Linked DNA regions of Homo sapiens. The protein of the gene in region 4 purifies or fractionates together with the protein of the main gene of each other region. This does not show direct contact. Each region holds a gene or a part of one and is shown on either strand. Other genes may lie near its edges.

Evidence for each region.
Region 1: the proteins of EXOC6 (region 4) and CARD19 purify together in Homo sapiens (affinity purification with mass spectrometry; 2 studies listed by BioGRID and IntAct, with this or other methods). This does not show direct contact.
Region 2: the proteins of EXOC6 (region 4) and NAE1 fractionate together in Homo sapiens (co-fractionation; one large-scale study listed by BioGRID). This does not show direct contact.
Region 3: the proteins of EXOC6 (region 4) and AKAP10 purify together in Homo sapiens (tandem affinity purification; one large-scale study listed by IntAct). This does not show direct contact.

What each region holds. Positions count from the first base shown.
Region 1 is NC_000009.12:93,108,534-93,113,656, reverse strand, and holds the end of CARD19 (caspase recruitment domain-containing protein 19), read right to left. Parts: intron 4,667-5,123; exon of another isoform or gene 4,565-4,666; intron 3,090-4,564; coding exon 2,936-3,089; exon of another isoform or gene 1,779-2,935; coding exon 1,719-1,778; exon of another isoform or gene 1,440-1,718; coding exon 1,368-1,439; intron 666-1,367; coding exon 550-665; 3' UTR 374-549; downstream 1-373. UniProt on the Homo sapiens protein: Plays a role in inhibiting the effects of BCL10-induced activation of NF-kappa-B. May inhibit the phosphorylation of BCL10 in a CARD-dependent manner.
Region 2 is NC_000016.10:66,816,983-66,822,105, reverse strand, and holds part of NAE1 (NEDD8-activating enzyme E1 regulatory subunit), read left to right. Parts: intron 1-546; coding exon 547-656; intron 657-3,468; coding exon 3,469-3,578; intron 3,579-4,618; coding exon 4,619-4,681; intron 4,682-5,077; coding exon 5,078-5,123. UniProt on the Homo sapiens protein: Regulatory subunit of the dimeric UBA3-NAE1 E1 enzyme. E1 activates NEDD8 by first adenylating its C-terminal glycine residue with ATP, thereafter linking this residue to the side chain of the catalytic cysteine, yielding a NEDD8-UBA3 thioester and free AMP.
Region 3 is NC_000017.11:19,904,034-19,909,156, forward strand, and holds the end of AKAP10 (A-kinase anchor protein 10, mitochondrial isoform 1 precursor), read right to left. Parts: intron 2,200-5,123; coding exon 2,194-2,199; 3' UTR 269-2,193; downstream 1-268. UniProt on the Homo sapiens protein: Differentially targeted protein that binds to type I and II regulatory subunits of protein kinase A and anchors them to the mitochondria or the plasma membrane.
Region 4 is NC_000010.11:92,917,127-92,922,249, reverse strand, and holds part of EXOC6 (exocyst complex component 6), read right to left. Parts: intron 2,269-5,123; coding exon 2,200-2,268; intron 1-2,199. UniProt on the Homo sapiens protein: Component of the exocyst complex involved in the docking of exocytic vesicles with fusion sites on the plasma membrane.

The DNA.
Region 1 (5,123 bases), on a different chromosome or scaffold from region 4:
AATATTCTCGTTTCCCCACAAAAAGGCTTGGGGGAGGAGCTGACAAGGGGAGGGAATCAGGTGTCCGGTCCAGGCTCAGCAGCTGGGGTGGGGGGAGTGGGTGTGTGTGTGTGTGTGTGTGTGTGTGTGTGTGTGTGTGTGTGTGGCACATGAGGTGTGAGGAGGGGGCAGTGTGGGGAACATCTGAGGTGGGGAGGCAGTGCCTGGCGGCTTATCCGAGGCAGGTGAGTCCATGTGGAGGGCGTCCTGTCTGGGGGGTCTGTGCCAGCAGCTGGATGTGGGGATGCTGGGAATACCAGGGCCAGCCCCAGCTGGAGCAGCCATAGCTGCAGTCATCTCTGAAACACCCCTGAGACTGAGGAACGAGGCAGGCTGAGAGAACCTGAACATTTAATATGGTCAGCACCTTGTAAGGTGAAGGTGTGTTTTTTACACAAATTATAAATAATGAAAAATATGCATTTAGAAAAAGAAGCAGCAGTCCCCTTGGCGGGCCGGCTCGAGGACTCTTTGGTTGAGTGGCAGGTGAGGCCCTGGGTCCAGGGTCTGTCAGAGCCCCCCTAGGTCATCTGCCAGGAAGGCCAGCAGGTAGCGGCTGACATGTCTGTCGATGATGACAGGCGAGAAACCGAGGACGCGCCGGGTCCCTGGCAGGCCCTTGGGGTCTAGAAGACAAAAGGGGAGGCAAAAGCTCAAGAACCAGTCCCAGAGGTGAATTCTGTGTTTCCATCCCTCCTGCGGGGGTGGGTGGGAACAGGCACTGGGACAGGGTGCTCCCTCCCGGTCATGGTCTCGGCTTGAGTTGAAAAGACAAGAATTAGGGCAGATTCCAGAGCCCCCAGCTCCCACCCGAGTGACCCACGGGCCTTTGAGTCCTGCCATGTGTGCCTGTGTCCCCTCACCCAGTAAGCCTCCCAGCACGACAAACTCAGGCATCACAGAAAAGGGAGACGGGGCAGGCCAGGCTGGGTGCCAGTAGAGGGGCCCTGGAAGGTTCCTGTGCATCAGGCCTGTGGCTGCTGGAGAGACCCAAGGCCCTGGGGCACGTGACCTGCTCAAGGGCCCCACATGGTTCAAGGTCACAGATGTGGCAGGGCTTTGTAACACCCAGAGTCCTGGCTGCACCCCTCCTCCCGCTAGAGGTCATCATTCTCTGGTTCCCAAGGGTGGCAGGGGCCAGTGGACGCTGGGAGCCTCCTCACATCCCCTTTCTCAGGAGCCCTGCGAGGTGACACCATCCCACTGCACAAGTGTGGACACCGAGGTACGAAGAGGCCAAGGGGTCCCAAATTGGGCAGGGTCTGGGGCCCTGGCTTGGTGGCAGAGGGGAGGCAGGCCCAGCCCCATGAGGATCCGCTTGCACCCACCTGGCGGATAGCAGTACAGGAGCAGGGCCAGTCCCACAGCAAGGCCCAGGCCAGCCAGGAAGCTCATGGGTCCTGGGGAGAAACCAGCGTGAACAGGGCTCCCCTGGGCCTCAGAGGGGTGGGGTCCTGAGGCCTGGGGGCTGCGCAGGGGAGTGGGGGTGCCAGGCTGAGGTGCTGCCTGAAGAGCCCCCAAACGAGCACCTTAGGGGGGGGGTCTGTCACCAACAGAAGGCCAGGAATGGAGCCAGACTTGGGGTGGAGAAGCCCCTGAGGCGGAGATGGAGCCCTGGGGAGGGTAAAGAGAGAGGGAGAGAGAGGGAGAGAGAGGGAGGGGCAGCAGGGAGGTGTTACCCCTGTTACTCAGCTCGCCGCTCTGGCTGCCCGAGTCTAGCTCTGTGCAATCTGAGTTCTCTGGAAACAAAACCACAGAGCATAGTTAGTCAACGGGCAGGGCCGGAGGGCAAGGTAGTCACCCCGCAGGAAGCCCAAGGTTGCTGCTGCCTCCTGGGGCCGCCAGGCCGAACCAGGCTGTGGCACCTGAGGCTAGCCCTCCTCAGGGAACTATGCACAGTCTGGGTCTTCTCCTCTGCTCCAACTCCTGGACGGGCCTAAAGGCACCCGGGAGCCACAGAAGGTGCTCTACCTCCAGTGGGGCCAAGGCTTGGCCCTGCCTGGTTTTGAAAGCCCCCTGTGGCATACTCGTGGCTGGGGAGGGAGAGCCAGTCCCACCTGCAGGGCTGGGCCTCCCCTCGAGCTCTCCCCGCCCACCGTCTGCACTGTGTTCTGTGAGGCGTGGGGAGGCCTCCAGGGGGTCAGAGACCACAGCCCAGTAGCCTGGGACAAGCCGCCCAGTCCCTCTGGTCTCTGTCCTGTTGTCTAAGGGCCAAGGGGCAGTAGCCCCTCCTCCAGGGGCCCTGAGCACAGAGGCGTCAGATCAGAGTTGCCATCTTCAACTTGATATGCCCCCCACATCCCAGCAGCTCTGTGGGCCCAGGCTACTGGCATCCACATGACTCCCAGGGCCTGAGTCCACACTGCCTGAGGACAGGAGCCTCAAAACTGAAATGCACGTGCTTCGGACCAGCCATCCGTGCCTGACAATGTCCTATGGAAACACCCACACGTGTGCAGATCGCTGCAATGAAAGGGTCCGTCATGGGGTTGGGTAATTCCAGCTGGGACCGCCTAGGAGCGCCATGCAGCTGTGGGAACAAGGTTGCTGTCCACACAGACATGAAGGGATCCCCGTGGAATGAGGTTAGAAAAGGAAGGGCAAGAGTGGACGTATAAGATGCCCCATGCTGTGTGAAAACTGCCATGAGAGAGAGACGGAGGAAGGGGGAGAAAGTGGGAGACAGAGACCAACATCTGCACTGCCTGTGCCTGCCACACTCTCCCCTCGGGGCCAGAGGGTGGCCTCTGGGGAGGGGCTGAGGCGAGAGGGGATGCCAGGCCTGGGCTGCAGCAGACTTGGGTGGTCATGGAGGACATCCATGCCATCAACGGCAGGCTGGGGTGCCCTCCCCGGGCCAGCACCAAGCATGCATGGTTGGTGATGTGGAACTTACGCAGAGCGTGGCGGCTGGGCAGGCGGCTGTGCAGGGGCTGGGCATGGATATACAGGGCTCGGTAGAACTCCTGGCAGTCCCGCTCACCGCTCCGCTGCAGGTGGCTCAGGAGGTCACAGAGCCGCACACGCAAGGATGCCTTGGGGTTCCGGAACTGAGGGTACAAGGGGGTGCCAGGGAAGATCAGGCCAGGGGGGCTGGCTGTGGGTCAGGGCAGGGCACCAAGGTCAGGCCCCCAGCCTCAGCTTCCCTGTTGGGTGTCAGGACACCTGCTGGATGGCAGCTCCTGTGACAACCTGCCCCTTACCCACACCACATAGTGCCTGGCATTGCCTCTGTCACAGGCATCACTGCTACTCCTCATACTCCCTGTGGGGTGGGAGGTTGGGAAACAGGCTGGGAGTGGTCACAAAGAAAGCATGGGGCTGGCAAGGTGCGGTGGCTCATGCCTGTAATCCCAGCACTTTGGGAGGCTGAGGCAGGCAGATCACGAGGTCAGGAGATCGAGACCATCCTGGCTAATACGGTGAAACCCCCGACTCTATTAAAAATACAAAAAACTTAGCCGGGTGTGGTGGTGGGCACCTGTAGTCCCAGCTACTCGGGAGGCTGAGGCAGGAGAATGGTGTGAACCCGGGAGGCGGAGCTTGCAGTGAGCTAAGATCGTGCCACTGCACTCCAGCCTGGGCGACAGAGCAAGACTCCATCTCGAAAAAAAGAAAGCACAGGGCTGGTGACATCATTCCAAGTGTTGGGACATAGTGTGGCTTCCTGTGTGACCTTAGCCAGCTACTCCACCCCTCAGAGACTTGGTTTCTTCATTTGTAAAAAAGGGATAATGAACCCTCATGGTAGGCTGTGACAGGGAATTAATGAAGTGATGGTATAAGTGCTAACTTCTGTTATTTTTCAGTCTACAGAATGTGATTCAAGTTTTAAAAAAGTAAGTTGAAGCCAGGCACAATGGCTCATGCCTATAATCCCAGCACTTTGGGAGGCTGAGGCAGGCGGATCAGGAGTTCCAGGTCAGGAGTTTGACACCAGCCTGGCCAACACGGTGAAACCCCATCTCTACTAAAAGTACAAAAAATTGACTGGGCATGATGGTGCATGTTTAATCCCAGCTTCTTGGGAGGCTGAGGCCAGAGGATTGCTTGAAACTGGGAGGCAGAGGTTGCACTGAGCCGAGATCATGCCACTGCACTCCAGCCTGGGCGACAGAGACTCCATCTCAAAGAAAAAAAAAAAAAGACAGAAGTATTGGCTCTTTTGATGTGTATGACAGAGAAATGTGTGGTTCTCAAGGTCAGTGGACAGGCCACTGGGCCTTGACCTCCAGGACCTGGAGTCTGTGGCCTGGTGCTGCCACCTGGTGGCAGCATATCATTCTACATGGCCACAGGGAACTGGAGTTAAACCATGGCAGTGTGAAAATGGCAGGCAGATGGGTGGCAGGAGCTGTGGTGTCTGTGAGGAAGGAATATGTGCTTTTTCTTGTATAAACGTCTTAAACTTTCTAAACTTTTTAAAAGTGAACATGCATTAGACTTCAATTGCAATAATAAGAGATTTGGATTTGAGCTCCTAACTTTTAAAATTACTGTACCACCTTCAAAACGGAAGAAGCACCTGAGCCAGTAGCAGGGCCCGTGTTGACTCCTGTTCTGTTGTGGGCCAACCTCATTGTTCCAGGAGATGCCCCAACCCTCAGGATAGCCCTGCACGTGGCACCTGTCAAGGAACAGGTGGCTCAGTGGGGGCGCCAGAGCCACAGATGTGGGTAGGGTCGGCAGGGTGTGGCTAACTCTCTCATCCAATGTCCCCTCAGGGCCACCTGGCACTGGGGTGATGGAGCAGAACAGACCTCCCAAGACAGAGCCCAGGAATTGCATCTTAAATGCCATCTCCAGCAGAGCCACCCTGGTGTGCCCAGCTCTGCAGCTCTGAGAGGCCAGGGCCATGTGACAGAGTGACAGCCACTGGCCCTGGGCACTTTCCCAAATAATAGGATGAACTCAAGATGTGGCCTGACACTCCTGAAATGAGTGGCCCTGGGCAAGTGGCTGCCTCTTGAGCCTTCGGACCACCTCTGTGAGATGGGGTGATGAGCGTGGCTGCCCACAGGGCTGCAGGGCCATCTGGCGACAAGGGCTCTCGGGCAGGCGTTTACCCGGCTCAGCTCAGTCAG
Region 2 (5,123 bases), on a different chromosome or scaffold from region 4:
TCACTTGAGCACAGGAGTTTAAGACCACCTGGGCAACATGGCAAAACCTTGTGTCTACAAAAACTACAAAATTTAGCCAGATGGTGTGCCTGCTTGTGGTCCCAGCTACTCAGGAGGCTGGGATGGGAGAATCACTTGAGCCTGGGAGGTCGAGGCTGCAGTGAGCCATGATCATGCCACTGCACTCCAGCCTGGGCAACAGAGAATTGGTTATTGGAATTGTTAGGGGTGTATTTGTGGGTTTTATATTTTTTCTCTATCATGGAAATGTTTAGAATTATCTTTCTTTAACGTTTCTCCTTAATATGACAGACTAAAGTTTCACATCCCTCTTGTCCAAAGATGTACTTTCTTTGAGACTGCAGCCTGTGGAAATGCTTGCTTTTCAGTGTGTTCTTGACCTGCTTATGTAAATGCAGTTATGTACCTTTGCATCTATTATTTAGTAAGAAAGTTGCTGTAAGACATTTTCATGTTTTGCATGTTTTCATGTTTGGCATATTTCCATTTGCTTATGTTCATATTTTGCTTTTTTTTTTTAAACAGCACTTCACTACGCTTAGCAGATGTCCTCTGGAATTCCCAGATTCCTCTTTTGATCTGTAGGACATATGGACTAGTTGGTTATATGAGGATCATTATAAAAGAACATCCAGGTAAAATTGTTGAGCATATGGGCTTACTATTGGTTGCTTTAGCTATAATTTTAGAAACTTGACAATTTAGAAAGTCAGTTTTAAATTACAAAGTAAATTTGTAGCAGCACATCTCTAGTTGCAGATTCAAAGTGGCAATCAGATTCAATAGGCTGCAATCTACTCTTTATGTAGCATTATAGAAGGATACAAAGCATGATATACCACAGGCACAGCTTCTTCATCTTATTAGGAGATCCAGCAACTATGCAAGTACCCAGCTTCTTTTGCCCCCTAACCCACATTGGGCATGTATGGCTGTGGAGAGCTAAGGAATGTGGATCACTCTGACCCATGAAGTTACACCACCTTTCCCCACTCCAGTCTTTTTTTTGTTTTTTAAGACAGAGTTTCGCTCTTGTTGCCCAGGCTGGAGTACAATGGCACAATCTTGGCTCACTGCAACCTCCACCTCCCGGGTTCAACTGATTCTCCTGCCTCAGCCTCCCAAGTATCTGGGATTACAGGCACCCGCCACCATGCCCAGCTAATTTTTTTTTTTTTTTTTTTGAGACGGAGTCTCTCTCTTTTGCTCAGGCTGGACTGCAGTGGCGCGATCTTGGCTCACTGCTACCTCCACCTCCCGGGTTCACGCCATTCTCCTGCCTCAGCCTCCCGAGTAGCTGGGACTACAGGCGCCCGCCACCGTGCCCGGCTAATTTTTTGTATTTTTAGTAGAGATGGGGTTTCACCATGTTAGCCAGGATGGTCTCAATCTCCTGACCTCGTGATCTGCCCGCCTTGGCCTCCCAAAGTGCTGGGATTACAGGCGTGAGCCACCGCACCCGGCCGCCCAGCTAATTTTTTGCATTTTTAGTAGAGACAGGATTTCACCATGTTGGCCAGGCTGGTCTCGAACTCCTGACCTCAGGTGATCCACCCGCCTTGGCCTCCCAAGGTGCTGGGATTACAGGTGTGAGCCACTGCACCAGGTCCGTCCAATCTTTTATTTCATTCTCATGCAGGCTTTAGGTTCTCTCAATTCAGGTGCAATTTCACACAACAAAGACATTTACATAACTACTGTTCCCAAGGAAACTGTTGTAAGAGACCAAAGTCGTTTATAGGCAGACCTCCATCAGCTGAGGGTTTATATAAGCCCTTTACTTATAAAATTTTAATCTTAGATGATCATAAAATTTTCATCCAGTATTCAAAACAGTGCTCTTTATTGACTCAAGAAAACATTTTTACTATGAGCCAAGCACTCTGCTAATGTGGTGATAGCCATTGGCATTGGTAGCATCACTGAGGAGTAATATCTGTGTGGGCAGTTAGGGAGTGCTTGTCAGGATAAGCTCTGGCTGCTGGTGGTGAGCCATTTAAGAGTTGAAAGTGGTGTCAACTGATGGGAGGGAACAAAAGAGTTGAAAGTGGGAGAGTGACCATGTAAACATTTTATTTTAAATGGGTCACTTTGAAGTTGAGTGGAAAGTAAATGGATTTAAAGGGGCAAAGATTGGAGGCAGTGATTGCTGTTAGAAATTTCCAGTGGCCTAAGTAAGAGAGAGTGTGTTCTTTTTCCTAATTTAGGGAAGAGAAGAAGAGAGGGTAGATAATAATGAAGGTTCAGCATTACTAGTTGTGTGCCTGCCTTTATAAGAATTATTTCATTTACTCTTTCCAAAACCTTTATAAGGTACAGATTGAGTATCCTTAATCCAAAAATCCAAAATCAGAAATGCTCCAAAATGCAAAACTTTTTGAGAACTGACATAATATTCAAAGGAAACACTCATTGGAACATTTCTTACTTCAGATTTTTGGGTTAGAGAGCTCATCTAATATGTATTTGCAAATATACCAAAAACTCAACAAAATCCAAAACACTTATGGTCCCAAGCATTTTGGATAAGAGAGATATACAATCTGTAGATACTTTAATATCTGCTTTTTATAGATGATGCTGAGGCAATGAGAGATTAAATTATTTGCCTAAGGTCACATAGTTAGCAAGTGACAGAACTGGGCCTACCTCTAAGCACTCACTGAAATTATACACTCTCCTGTCCTCTCTCATGTGGAGAGCAGTGTACAGAGTGAGATTAGGAAGTGGGGAGTTACTGATGTTGGGGCCAAGGAAGCAAGAAGTGAAGGATGCCCATCAGGTTTCTGGAGAAGAAGTCTAGGTAGATGGTGATGCTGTCTATTGAAGACCACAAGAGGAGGAAGGATAGGTTGTTAGTTGCTATCTGTACCTAGGGTTTGTCAATGTTGAGCTTTTCCAGTTAGAACAAATTGTGTTCTAAAGGAATCTTGGTTTTACTTTTACTAAAACTTTATAGTTGACTTAAGATTTCTGCATTTTACTATATGTAAATCGTACCTTAATAAAACAGTGAAAAAACCTGTGGGCCCTGTGTCCATTTAAAAATTAAAGATTTCCTAAGTTTCTATAATTCAATGTATTGTCATCAGTATTGCCAAAGAATTAAGTTTATCTTTTGAGCTGGGCACGGTGGCTCACACCTGTAATGCAAGGACTTTGGGAGGCCGAGGCAGGAGGAGCCCTTGAATCCAGGAGTTTGAGACTAGCCTGGGTGACATAGTGAGACCCTATCCCTACAAAAAAATTAGCTGGGCACAGTGACACGAGACTGTAGTCCCACCTTCTCAGGAGGCTGAGGTGGGAGGATCCCTTCAGCCCAGGAGTTTCAGCAGTGAGCTGTGATTGTGCCACTGTACTTCAGCCTGGGTAATACAGCAAGACCCCATCTCTCTCTTTTTTTTTTTTAAGTGTTAAATTTATCCTTTTGAATTCTTTGTTTCACAGTAATAGAATCTCATCCAGATAATGCATTAGAGGATCTACGACTAGATAAGCCATTTCCTGAACTGAGAGAACATTTTCAGTCCTATGATTTGGATCATATGGAAAAAAAGGTTGGTAGTGTGTGTGACCTTACATTTACAGATAGACTTAAAACATTTTTTTAACCTAAGGTTTTTGAATTACACTAAAGTGAGAAAATCCTATAAACTTCCATATTCCTGTCATCCCGATTACCCAATAACAGTATTTTACCTTGTTTTCAACATATTAATTTTTCTCCAAAATTAAAAAACTTTTTTACTGAAGAAAAGTACATATACTGAACATCTGTGTAATCACTACCCAGGTCAAGAAATTGGACATTAACCTATTCCAGGTGGGGAGATGGGGATGGTTAATGGGTACCAAAAAAAAATTAGAAAGAATAAATAAGATTTACTCCTTGAAAGCACAACAAGGTGACTATAGTTAGTAATAACAACTCAGTTATACATTTTAAAATAATTAAAAGAGTTTAATTGGATTATTTGTAACATAAAGGATAAACGCTTGAGGGGATAAATGCTATACAGATACCCCATTCTCCATGATGTGCTTATTTCACATTGCATGCCTGTATCAAAGCATGTACCCCATAAATATATACACCTAAGTACCCACAAAAATTGAAAGTAAAAAATTTTAAAACAAAAAACAGAAATAAAAAAATTCCAAGAAGTTCTCTTTATGGACTTTTTCTAAACAAATAGAAATAATGACATAACACTATAAGGCGTATATGTATTTTTTCCCACTTCCATATTAATTAACATGCAGTTGCTTATTTGGTTCATCAGAAAACAGAAAAGATCCTCCTTTCTTACTTAGGATTGGTGTCTGAAATTGAGATTTGAGCTGTGTTTTTGGGTGGCAGTCTCTGAGACTGTTTTGCTGGTATAATGGGGACAATCATAGTATATATGTGACATACTAGGTATCTGCCTCTAGAAAAATTTGTAAAGCAGTTTTTATTAACTCAGTTCATTTTCGTCTATTCACTACTCTGCATATATTAGGAGATCATAAATATTGTTGAATTTGTTGAAAACGAGATGGTACAGTGAAGAATTCATAATACTGATATTTTCTTTTATTTGTCTCTCATTTTTAGGACCACAGTCATACTCCATGGATTGTGATCATAGCTAAATATTTAGCACAGTGGTATAGTGAAGTATGTCCTTTTTTAAAAAAAATTTCATATGCAACTGTATTTTCAGTTTCTTACAAAGGATTTCCTTGATGGGGAATGGGAGATTAATTTTTTTTCCTTATGGAGTTGTATGGTAGGGCAAATGGATGCTTTTAAATTTAAATCTAGCAGTTCCTCTTTTGATCCTGATAATTTTAATTAAAATGAAATTCAATAAATGTCATTATGAAACTGGCAGGGGGAATGAATGTAGATAAATGGTCACAGTGTCTGTTTTCTATCAAGTGAGCCTCTGATTTCACAGAGAAATATATTTGTTGATGAAATCTTATGTAGAGAATGGGGGACACTTTAGACTTTCAATTTCTGTATTTTGAATTTTAATAACTAGATTTTTAAAATTTTTAACCAATTTAGACAAATGGACGAATACCTAAAACGTATAAAGAAAAAGAGGACTTCA
Region 3 (5,123 bases), on a different chromosome or scaffold from region 4:
CAATGTCAACAACATGATAAAGATGAAGGGTGTTCAACTGATTATTTGAACCCATAAAAACTCCACCAGGGAATCTTATTTTGTGGGCACAATGCACAGAGCCTGGAACATGGTGGGTGCTCAATGTTGGAGGAATCAAATTCCAACTTTAAAATGAGTACAAGGACCTACTTTAGATCAAATATTAAATCTGGCTAATAATTTCGGGCCACACTCCGCTTCTGTGTCTCAAAGCAGGTGGGGCAGAAAAAAGTAGCCGAGTCTCAAATTTGCTGCTATTCTCTTTATAAGCAGTTTACAACTACTTGGCATCTCTAGCTCAGAAGCACAAAATGTATATACAAAGAAATGATTAGAATTTATCTTAACTGAAAGCACTAGTTTAAACAGCCTAGAGTCTTGTAGAAATTGTTATTCCAAAACATGCAGAGGCAGCAAGAGTTGCCCAAAACCACATTTTATTCTATAACCTTTATATTGCTTTTCTGTTAAAGATTGAAGCAATGTGAAGTGGATGGAAATATTTTGTTAAAAGAACAAAATGAATTAATCACAGCATAGATGACTAATAAAAACCTTGGGTTTATGCCATACACTTCAAACACAAGGCAAAGTCCAGTAGTGGCTCATGTTCTGGGTTTTTAGAAAGCAAATGAAAATATTTGGAAAGATCAATATATTTCAACAGAAGAGCCATAAATGCCCTGAAAGCAGAAAGTTGACACAATTTTAAATAGAATTCATATATATATATTTTAAAATCAAACACAATTAAATATAATATGGTTTAAGTACATGAATACTTCAGCTTTAAAAGAATAACAGAGGTGGTACATAGTACCAAAAACTTACACAAAGCCTTTTTGCTTCTTCTGTCGATGAAACAGTGTGCCTCTATACAATCAAATATTGCAATGGAATAAATTCTCTGTTCATTCAAGACTTTCTCAAGGACAAAAGTGATTAATAATTATATATTTATACATATATATATATATTTTTTTTTTTGCAAAGTCTGAGCAAAAGCAGTAACATCTAAGAGAACTTTCTTTCCTCTCAATCATGTGCATTGAGGAAGCGCTGGCGCCACGTGGTCAATGGAGTGTGCTCACCAACTGGGCAGTCCTGCTGATGGCTGTGTGATCCCGATGCAGAAGCCAACTGAGCAGAAGTGCAGTGAGTGAGTCTCTTACTATCCTAAAGAAAGGAGAAGAAAGACGACCAACTGCACACTTTCCAGCTCACAGCAAAGAATGGGGGAGGCAGTCAAAGTCAAATGTTTCTCTCTCCCCAGTCATCCTGCTCACCTTATTTAAAAAAAAAAAAAGTATAATTTGGGAAGAACTGCTTTGTTCAAGGTGCCACAGGGGCAAAAGTGGAGTCATCGCTATTTCTTTCTTTCTTTCCACATGTATTCTGAAGGGAAAGTTAAGTAACTGGAGTGCAGAATTCCAAAGGGGCAAATCCTAATGCTCAAAGTAAACCAGATTCACACCCTTCTGTTAGCAGGGGAGAGAATGGTTTTAAGTATAGTGCATCTCAGGAGGAGGAATTAAAATGTGAAAACTATATACTGCCATCAGAGGAAGGAGGAAGTCACTGAAACTTGACCCATGACTTGTCAGTTTCCTTCCAAATTAATGCCGCTGTCAAGAAGACTGCATAATTAACTCTCACCCTGTTCCGCTGAAGCTGCTAGCACCACGCTGCCACTCAAAGCTGCCTGGCTCTCGGTGGGGCTGACTCACCTGCTTTGGAAGGACAAAGCAAACCACCTCTGGCACCTGCTTTACAATGCTGATTAGGGATGAGTTACCACTACGAGTGTGCATCAAGTATCAGTTCTATGCTTATCTGCTTCCCAGAGGATGTGGTCCCTGTCTATTCCAGTAGGCTAAAACACTCTCATAAATGGGTTATTGCCATTGGAAAACTAATAATTTTCTAGTAATGTAAACAATACCATTTTGTATCTTTAAGACTCTCACTGTGTGAACATCATGTGCATCAATTATGCCTACAGGTAACTGCATTATGGTGGAAGTCTAGGATTGTCTCCCATTCTCTCCTGGAAACAACAGTGACAGATCAGAAATATAGTGCTGTTTTCATTGGCTGTGTTGAAGAATCCAACCAAGGGAAAAAAGTTCTCTTATTTTTCACAAGCAGATTTCCTTTATCTCAAGTTTTGAGTCATAACTGAAAAAAGAAAAGAAAAGAAAATGGTAAGGTGCATTTCTCTAACAAGTGACCTATTATTACAAATTAAGGATGGACACCAACACTTAGTGTTTACTATATACCAGAGTTTAAGACAGCCAGAAGCTGACTACAATTTTGTGAGGTAAAATATTGTAATTTTCCTTGTTAAAATATGAGTGAACAGAAGCTTAAAGAGGTTACGTAACTTACCCAAGGGGCATATAACAAGGACTGGCATCCAGACTTGCTTTCCCATGTTGGCAATAGATATTAGAATGAAAAATATTGCCAATTTTCAATAGAGTAATTCTACTTCTAGGAATTAACCCTAGAGCATATTCAAGAGGGATGGTAAAGACACACATGCAGACATTCACTGACTCCCTCCTGTAGTCACAGCACTGCGGACAAATATCACGGAAGACAAGGTCCCCGGTATTGTGGCATGGGACATGTGCACATGAAGCAATTCAGTAATGGTGTGAGGTAGTTTATGCTGAATGTCCAAGTACATCCTATAGGCAAATGTCGAGTTGGAGGTTGAAGCAGAGAGGTATCAACACAGGATAAAGAGAATGAGTATTCCTTCGCAGGCCTAGGACTTCATGCATTCATAAAATCATGGAATGAGGATTAGAAGGGGTTTTTCTTTTGGGGTTTTGGTGTCGAATTTCTCTGATCTACTAATGAGGACATGAGGAACTAAAGTAGTCACCTGCAAAAGGTCACACTTACTGCCTAAAGTAAAGAAAAACTCAGCTAGTTCTTCGAGTCTACTGTTTTTTTTTGTTTTTTTTTTGAGACGGAGTTTCACTCTTGTGGCCCAAGCTGGAGTGCACTGGTGCAATCTCAGCTCACCGCAACCTCTGCCTCCCGGGTTCAAGCAATTCTCCTGCCTCAGCCTCCCAAGTAGCTGGGATTACAGGCAATGCGCCACCACGCCCAGCTAATTTTGTATTTTTAGTAGAGATGAGGTTTCTCCATGTTGGTCAGGCTGGCCTTGAACTACCGATCTCAGGTGATCTGCCTGCCTCAGCCCCCACAAAGTGCTGGGATTATAGACGTGAGCTACCACGCCCGGCCCCCATTTCTGGTATTTTTTATTTTAAGAAATTCCATTTGGTTCTTTTAAAACTATTTTGCATTTTTCTCATTATACTCTTGTTTTCTTTAACTTTTTTTTTTTTTTTTTTGAGACAGAGTCTCACTCTGTTGTCCAGGCTGGAGTACAAGTGGCACAATCTCGGCTTACTGCAACCTCAACCTCCACCTCCCGGGTTCAAGTGATTCTTGTGCCTCAGCCTCCCATATAGCTGGGACTATAGGCACCTGCCACCATGCCCAGCTAATTTTTTTGTATTTTTAGTAGAGAAGGGGTTTCACCATATTGGCCAAGCTGGTCTTGAACTCCTACCCACCTTGGCCTCCCAAAGTGCTGGGATTACAGGCATGAGCCACTGCACCTGGCCACTTGAACATATTTTTAATATTTAAAATAGCCACTTGATGGTCTTTGTCTGCTAAATTCATCATCTTTCTCACATCTGGGTCTGTTTCTATAGATTGAGTTTTCTCCTGGTTATAGGTCAACTTCATGTCATGCTTGGTAATTTGTGATTGACGTCAGACATTCTTTTTTTTTTTTGAGCCTGAGTTTTGCTCTTTTTGCCCAGACCAGAGTGCAGTGGTGCGATCTCGGCTCACTGCAACCTTCACCTCCTGGGTTCAGGCAATTCTCCTGCCTCAGCCTCCCAAGTAGCCGGGATCACAGGTGCCGGCCACCATGCCTGGCTAAGTTTTTGTATTTTTAATAGAGACGGGGTTGCACCATGTTAGCCAGGCTGGTCTTGAACTCCTGACCTCAGGTCATCTACCTGCCTCGGCCTCCCAAAGTGCTGGGATTACAGGCATGAGCCACTGCGCCCAGCCTGGACGTCAGACATTCTAACTTTACACTGTGAAGTGCTGAATTTTGTTGTGTTACTGTAAAGAGGGTTAGGCCTTTGTTTTGGCATGCAGTTGTTAGGTAATTTGACCCTTTAAAAATTTGCTTTGAAACTTGGTTCAGGTGCTTGTACTCTAGGACTAATTTATCTTCAGTAGTAAGGCATAACCTCTGTGAAGACACTACCCAATGCCTTGTGTATTACTAAGTCTCTCTACTCTGGCCAGATCCTTCTGGCCATGAACTTTTCTTAGCCCTATGTTCCAGCAATCATTCAGCCTACTAATTTCTGGGGGGTTCTCTACCTGGACACATGCGTTTTCACCCCACACATATACAGATCACTCCTAGGCCAAGGATCCATGGGAATCTCTCTAAATATCTCTACGGCTTTCTTTCTGGGCAGCTTCCTCTTTTCTGCTACCTTATCCTACAACTTCTACTCAAATTGAGCTCTCTGAACTTTGATTTTTTTTTTGAAATGGGGTTTCGCTCGTCGCCCAGGCTGGAGTGCAGTGGTGTGATCTCGGCTCACTGCAACCTCCGCCTCCCTGGTTCAAGCGATTCTCCTGCCTCAGCCTCCCAAATAGTTGGGATTACAGGTGCCTGCCACCACACCCGGCTAAGACAGGGTTTCACCATGTTGGCCAGGCTGGTCTTGAACTCCTGACCTCAAGTGATTCACCCGCCTTGGCCTCCCAAAGTGCTGGGATTACAGGCGTGAGCCACTGCACCTGGCCTGAACTTTGATATTTAACTCTTTCGTTCAGCAAGACTACTGGGCTCTGTTTGGTTTCCATGGTTTCCCTGTATTGCCCATTGTCCAATATATGCAAACAGTTGTTTCATTTAGTTTGTCAATTTTCTAGTTGCTTATGATAAGAAGGTAATCCCCACAGCAGTTAATCCTTCAAAGGCAAAGAAACCCCTTATGTTCTTTTTTATTTTTACACCTGGAAAATAATACTTTTTAGTT
Region 4 (5,123 bases):
TAGTGGCCGGCCACGGTGGCTCATGCCTGTAATCCCAGCACTTTGGGAGGCTGAGGTGGGCAGATCACCTGAGGTCAGGAGTTCGAGACCAGGCTAGCCAACATGGAGAAACCCCGTCTCTACTAAAAATACAAAAATTAGTCAGGCGTGGTGGCAGGCGCCTGTAATCCCAGCTACTTGGGAGGCTAAGGTAGTAGAATCGCTTGAACCCAGGAGGCGCAGGTTGTAGTGAGCCAAGATGGCACCACTGCATTCCAGCCTAGGCAACAGAGCAAGACTCTGTCTCAAAAAAAAAGAAAGAAATTAGCTTTACCAAATAATTTTTGGTTATATATACCAGCCAGAAGTTATTGTGCTAATGAAAGTTTATTAAATTTACAGCATAAAACAGTAAGACTATACTGTAAACTCTACCTCTACCAAAAATACAAAAATTAGCCAAGCATGGTGGCATGAGCCTGTAGTCCCAGGTACTTGGGAGGCTCAAGTGGGAGAATCGCTTGAGCCCAAAGAGGTCAAGGCTGCAGTGAGCTGTGATCACGCCACTGCACTCCATCTTGGGTGACAGAGCAAGACCCTATCTCAAAAAAAAAAAAAAAGAAAGAAAGAAAACAATAGCACAAAGAAAAGGGTATTAATCTAACTGAATTGTTTTAAAGTAAGATGTTAATTGCAATCCTCAGGGCTAATACTAAGAAAATAGGCTGGGCTAGGTGGCTCACACCTGTAACCCCAGCACTTTGGGAGGCCGAGACGGGTGGATCACCTAAAGTCAGGAGTTCGAGATCAGCCTGGCCAACAAGGTGAAACCCCATTTCTACTAAAAAAATACAAAAAATTAGCTGGCCATGGTGGCGGGTGCCTGTAAACCCAGCTACTTGGGAGGCTGAGGCAGGAGAATCACTTGAACCCAGGAGGCGGAGGTTGCAGTGATCTGAGATCATGCCATTGCACTCCATCCTGGGCAACAAGAGCAAAACTCCAGCACAAAAAAAAAAAAAAAAGGAAATGACAAAGGAAATGAAATGGTACATAAGAAAATATCTATTTAATGCACAAGACAGTACTAATGGAGGAATAGAGGAACAAAAAAGATATAAGACATGTTAAAACAAATGGCAAACATCAGAGCAGACATAAATCCTACCTTACCAGTAATTACATTAAATGTAAATGAACTAAACACTCCAATTGAAAGGCAGAGATCAGCAGACTGGATTTAAAAAAACAGACTGAACTATGTGTTACCTACTGGAGACATACTTTAGATTCAAAGATACAAAGAGACTGAAAGTAAAAGGATGGGGAAAAACATGCTATGCCAATAGTGCTCAGAAGAAAGCTGGAGTGGCTATACTAATTAAAGCCAAACAGACCTTAAGACAAAAAATATTATGAAGAAAGATATTTTATGATTTTTTTAAAAAAGGTCAATCCATCAGGAAGACATAACAATTATAAACATATATTCACCTGCCAACAAGGCCCTAAAAATACATGAATAAAAAACTGGCAAAACTGAAAGAAAAAATGGACAATTCAACAGTTATAGTTGAAGACTCCAATACTTCTACTTTCAATAACAGAATAGGCAGAAGACCAACAAGGAAGTAAAAGACGTGAACAACCCTATAAACCAACTACATCTAACAAATATCTATAGAACACACCACCTAATAACAGCCAGATACACATTTTTGATGTTTTGGGGGTGGTTGGAGGGGTGGGTAATGGGTATTTCTGGAATTAGGTAGTGGTAATGGTTGCACATCCTTGTGAATATGCTAAAACCACCGAATTGTATACTCTAAAAGGGTAAGTTTTTTCGTATGTGAACTAGATCTCAATAAAGCAGTTATTTTTAAAAAGGAACATTAAATCAAAAATAAGAGCAATGTAGTATGGAATACACATGTAAAAGTAACTTATAAGAACTGTGATGTAACAACAGCACAAAGGCAATAGGGAGAAATGGAAGTATACTATTACAAGGTTCTTAAAATATACATGAAATGGTATATCACTTGAAATTACACTATGATAAGTAAACAAAAAATGTAAGTGCCTTACACAGAGTGGATATTTCACAAAGAATTATGTGAAGATTTACAGCATATGATCAATTTTTAGGGCCTAAAATACATACATGCCTTTTAAATAATATAAAGCTATATATACATAAATATAAAACATACTTACCAAAACAGAATAAATGTGCAAACATCGATAAACAGGGGAAAAATCAACAAGATCCTGAACAGTTAAGATCTGAAAATTAAACCATTTTTAAAAAAATTATAGGTCAAACTATTAGACCACCATTAGATAATGTAAAGTTAAAGATAGGCAAGAAGATTCATGAACTTTGTGTTACAACATTTATTCAATTCCCCCATAGAAAGCATACACTATAAACGCAAAACCTTCTTTATTTTGTTTTGGCATTTCTTCAGCAGTTTATTCTTTGTAGTATGTTTATTATCACTGTGGACTGTTTTCAACTTAAGGTAACCAAGGAGAGAAATTGTATATTTTTAATATGTATGATAGATTACAGAAAACTGCTATGGATAACTAGATACCTTATTATTGTTTTGGGTAAAAATGATACACAGATTTCATGATTTGGCTATAGACAAAGTTCCTGTTCTTACGCAGCTATGTCATATGATTGGTCATTATTGCACTGAATTAAAGACACTATCAGTATTATTTTACAGACTGCTAAGAAAGAAAAAACACCACCACTTAAAACTATAACACCATCATCTTTAAGATGTATCCTATATTCTGAAATGTTATGTGGAAAAAAAAATGCCTTACAATTGATGAAATGTAGTACTATAAAGTTTCTCAAACTTGAGAAATACATAAACCCTTTTTAAAGGAACACATTTGTACTCATGTGAATCTCCAGAGTGAACTTAAATTATTTTTACTATAACATTGCTTATTAGGGAAAATGATAAAAACAAAATGTAGTGCAGTATAGTAGTAAAATAGATCTGAGAGAACAGGGAAACCACCAAGCTCCTCTAAATGTAAAGGTCTGGGGGTAAGGCATGATGGTGATGCTCCCAGCAGGAAAGATATACAGAACAGGAAGGGGAAAATTGAAGTAAGAAGACTAGATGGTCTATTTTCAACATTCTGAACCTCAAAGGAGAAAATAATACAGAGGTCCTCTGAATATTTAGAAAGAACAAAAAAGCAGAGGTCAAAAATATTTATTTAATTTAAAGGGACAAAAAACCTAATAATAATTTCAAGGGACTAATCAGGACATACTAATTCCACATTAGGAAGGCATTTAACTGTTTGAAGCTGTTCATTTGTCTGTATTCAGTACAATAGCAGACATTCACTACATACGCATATATATACATATATACACATATATACACACATACACATATGTGCATACATATTCACACAAATATATTACATATATACTACATATATATTTGTGTGACTATGTACATATGTATCACCTCATCCTCAGATATACAGCAGAAATGTACATAGTGGCTGGGTGTGGTGGCTCACGCCTACAATCCCAGCACTTTAGGAGGCCAAAGCAGAAGGACCACTTGAAGCCAGGAGTTCAAGACCAGCCTGGACAACACGGCAGTTCCCCATCTCTACAAAAAATATAAAAAAATTAGCTGGATATAGTATATACAGGCATGTGCCTGTAGTTCCAACTACTTGGGAGGCTGAAGCAGGAGGAGCATTTGAACATAAGAGTTTGAGGTTACAGTAAGCCATGATTATGCCAACTGCTCTCCAGCCTGGGTGACAGAGTAAGACCCTGTCTCAAAAAAAAAAAAAAAGAAATGCACATAGTAAACACTCAGCTGTTCACCCATTCACAAATGCAGTCATGAGCACATAGTCGTATGGTTCAACTAAAAATTCTTACTGCATCCCAATTATGTCCTTAGAAAAAGAATTTAAAATCTCATTGGCAAGGCAAAACTTATAAATTAATTGGGAATAACAAGGTTCCTATGATAGTAGCTAAATTTAAAAAAAAATTGAAAAGGACGATAAAAGGTAAGTTCAATAGAAGATTCTGTGGAGATAATTTTATTTATTTTTTTGAAATGGGCGTCTCACTCTGTCACCCAGGCTGGTATGTAGTGACATGATCACAGCTCACTGCATCCTCAACCTCCTCTGGCTCAGGTGATTCTCCCACCTCAGCCTCCCCAGTAGCTGGGAATACAGGCACTATGCCTGGCAATTTTTTTGTATTTTTTGTAGGAAAAGGGTTTCGCCATGTTGGCCAGGCAGGTCTCAAACTCCTGGCCCAAACAATCTGCCCCCCTCGGCCTCCCAAAGTGCTAGCATCACAGGCATGAGCCACGGCATCAAGCCCTGTAGAAAAAACTTTCGAAAGCAATAGGATGCCGGGCATGGTGGCTCACACCTGTAATCTCAGCACTTTGGAAGGCTGAGTGAGAGGATAATTTGAGGCTAAGATAATCTGAGTTCAAGACCAGCCTTGGTAACATAGTGAGACCTCTGTCTCTATAAGAAATTTTTTTTTTTTAATTAGCCAGGCATGGTGATAGTGTGCTTTTAGTCCTAGCTACTTGGGAGACTGAAGTGGGAAGAACACTTGGACCCAGAAGTTGCAGGCTGTAGTGAGCTATGACTGTACCACTGCACTCACGGGCAACACAGTGAGCCCTATCTCTAAAAAAAAAAAAAGAAAGAAAAAAAGAACGAGAGAATGAATTTGGATATAGAAGATGAAAGAAAGAAAATATTTAAGGATAATTTCAAGGTTTCTAGACTTACTAGAACTTTTTTTTTTTCCATTAAAAGACTAATCATAGTAGAGTTATTTTTGTAGTATTTCAGCACCAATTTTTTAAATAGGTAGACTATCCAGAATTAGGCCAAATGACAAGACATTACGAAATAAAAATCTGACAACAGGTAATTCAAATATAAGTAATCACTATAAAAATAATTAGATTTGGGCGCAGTGGCCCACACCTGTAATCCCAGCACTTTGGGAGGCCGAGGTGGACAGATCACCAGGCCAGGAGTTCAAGACCAGCCTGGCCAGCATGGTGAAACCCCGTCTCTAATAAAAATACAAAAATTAGCCA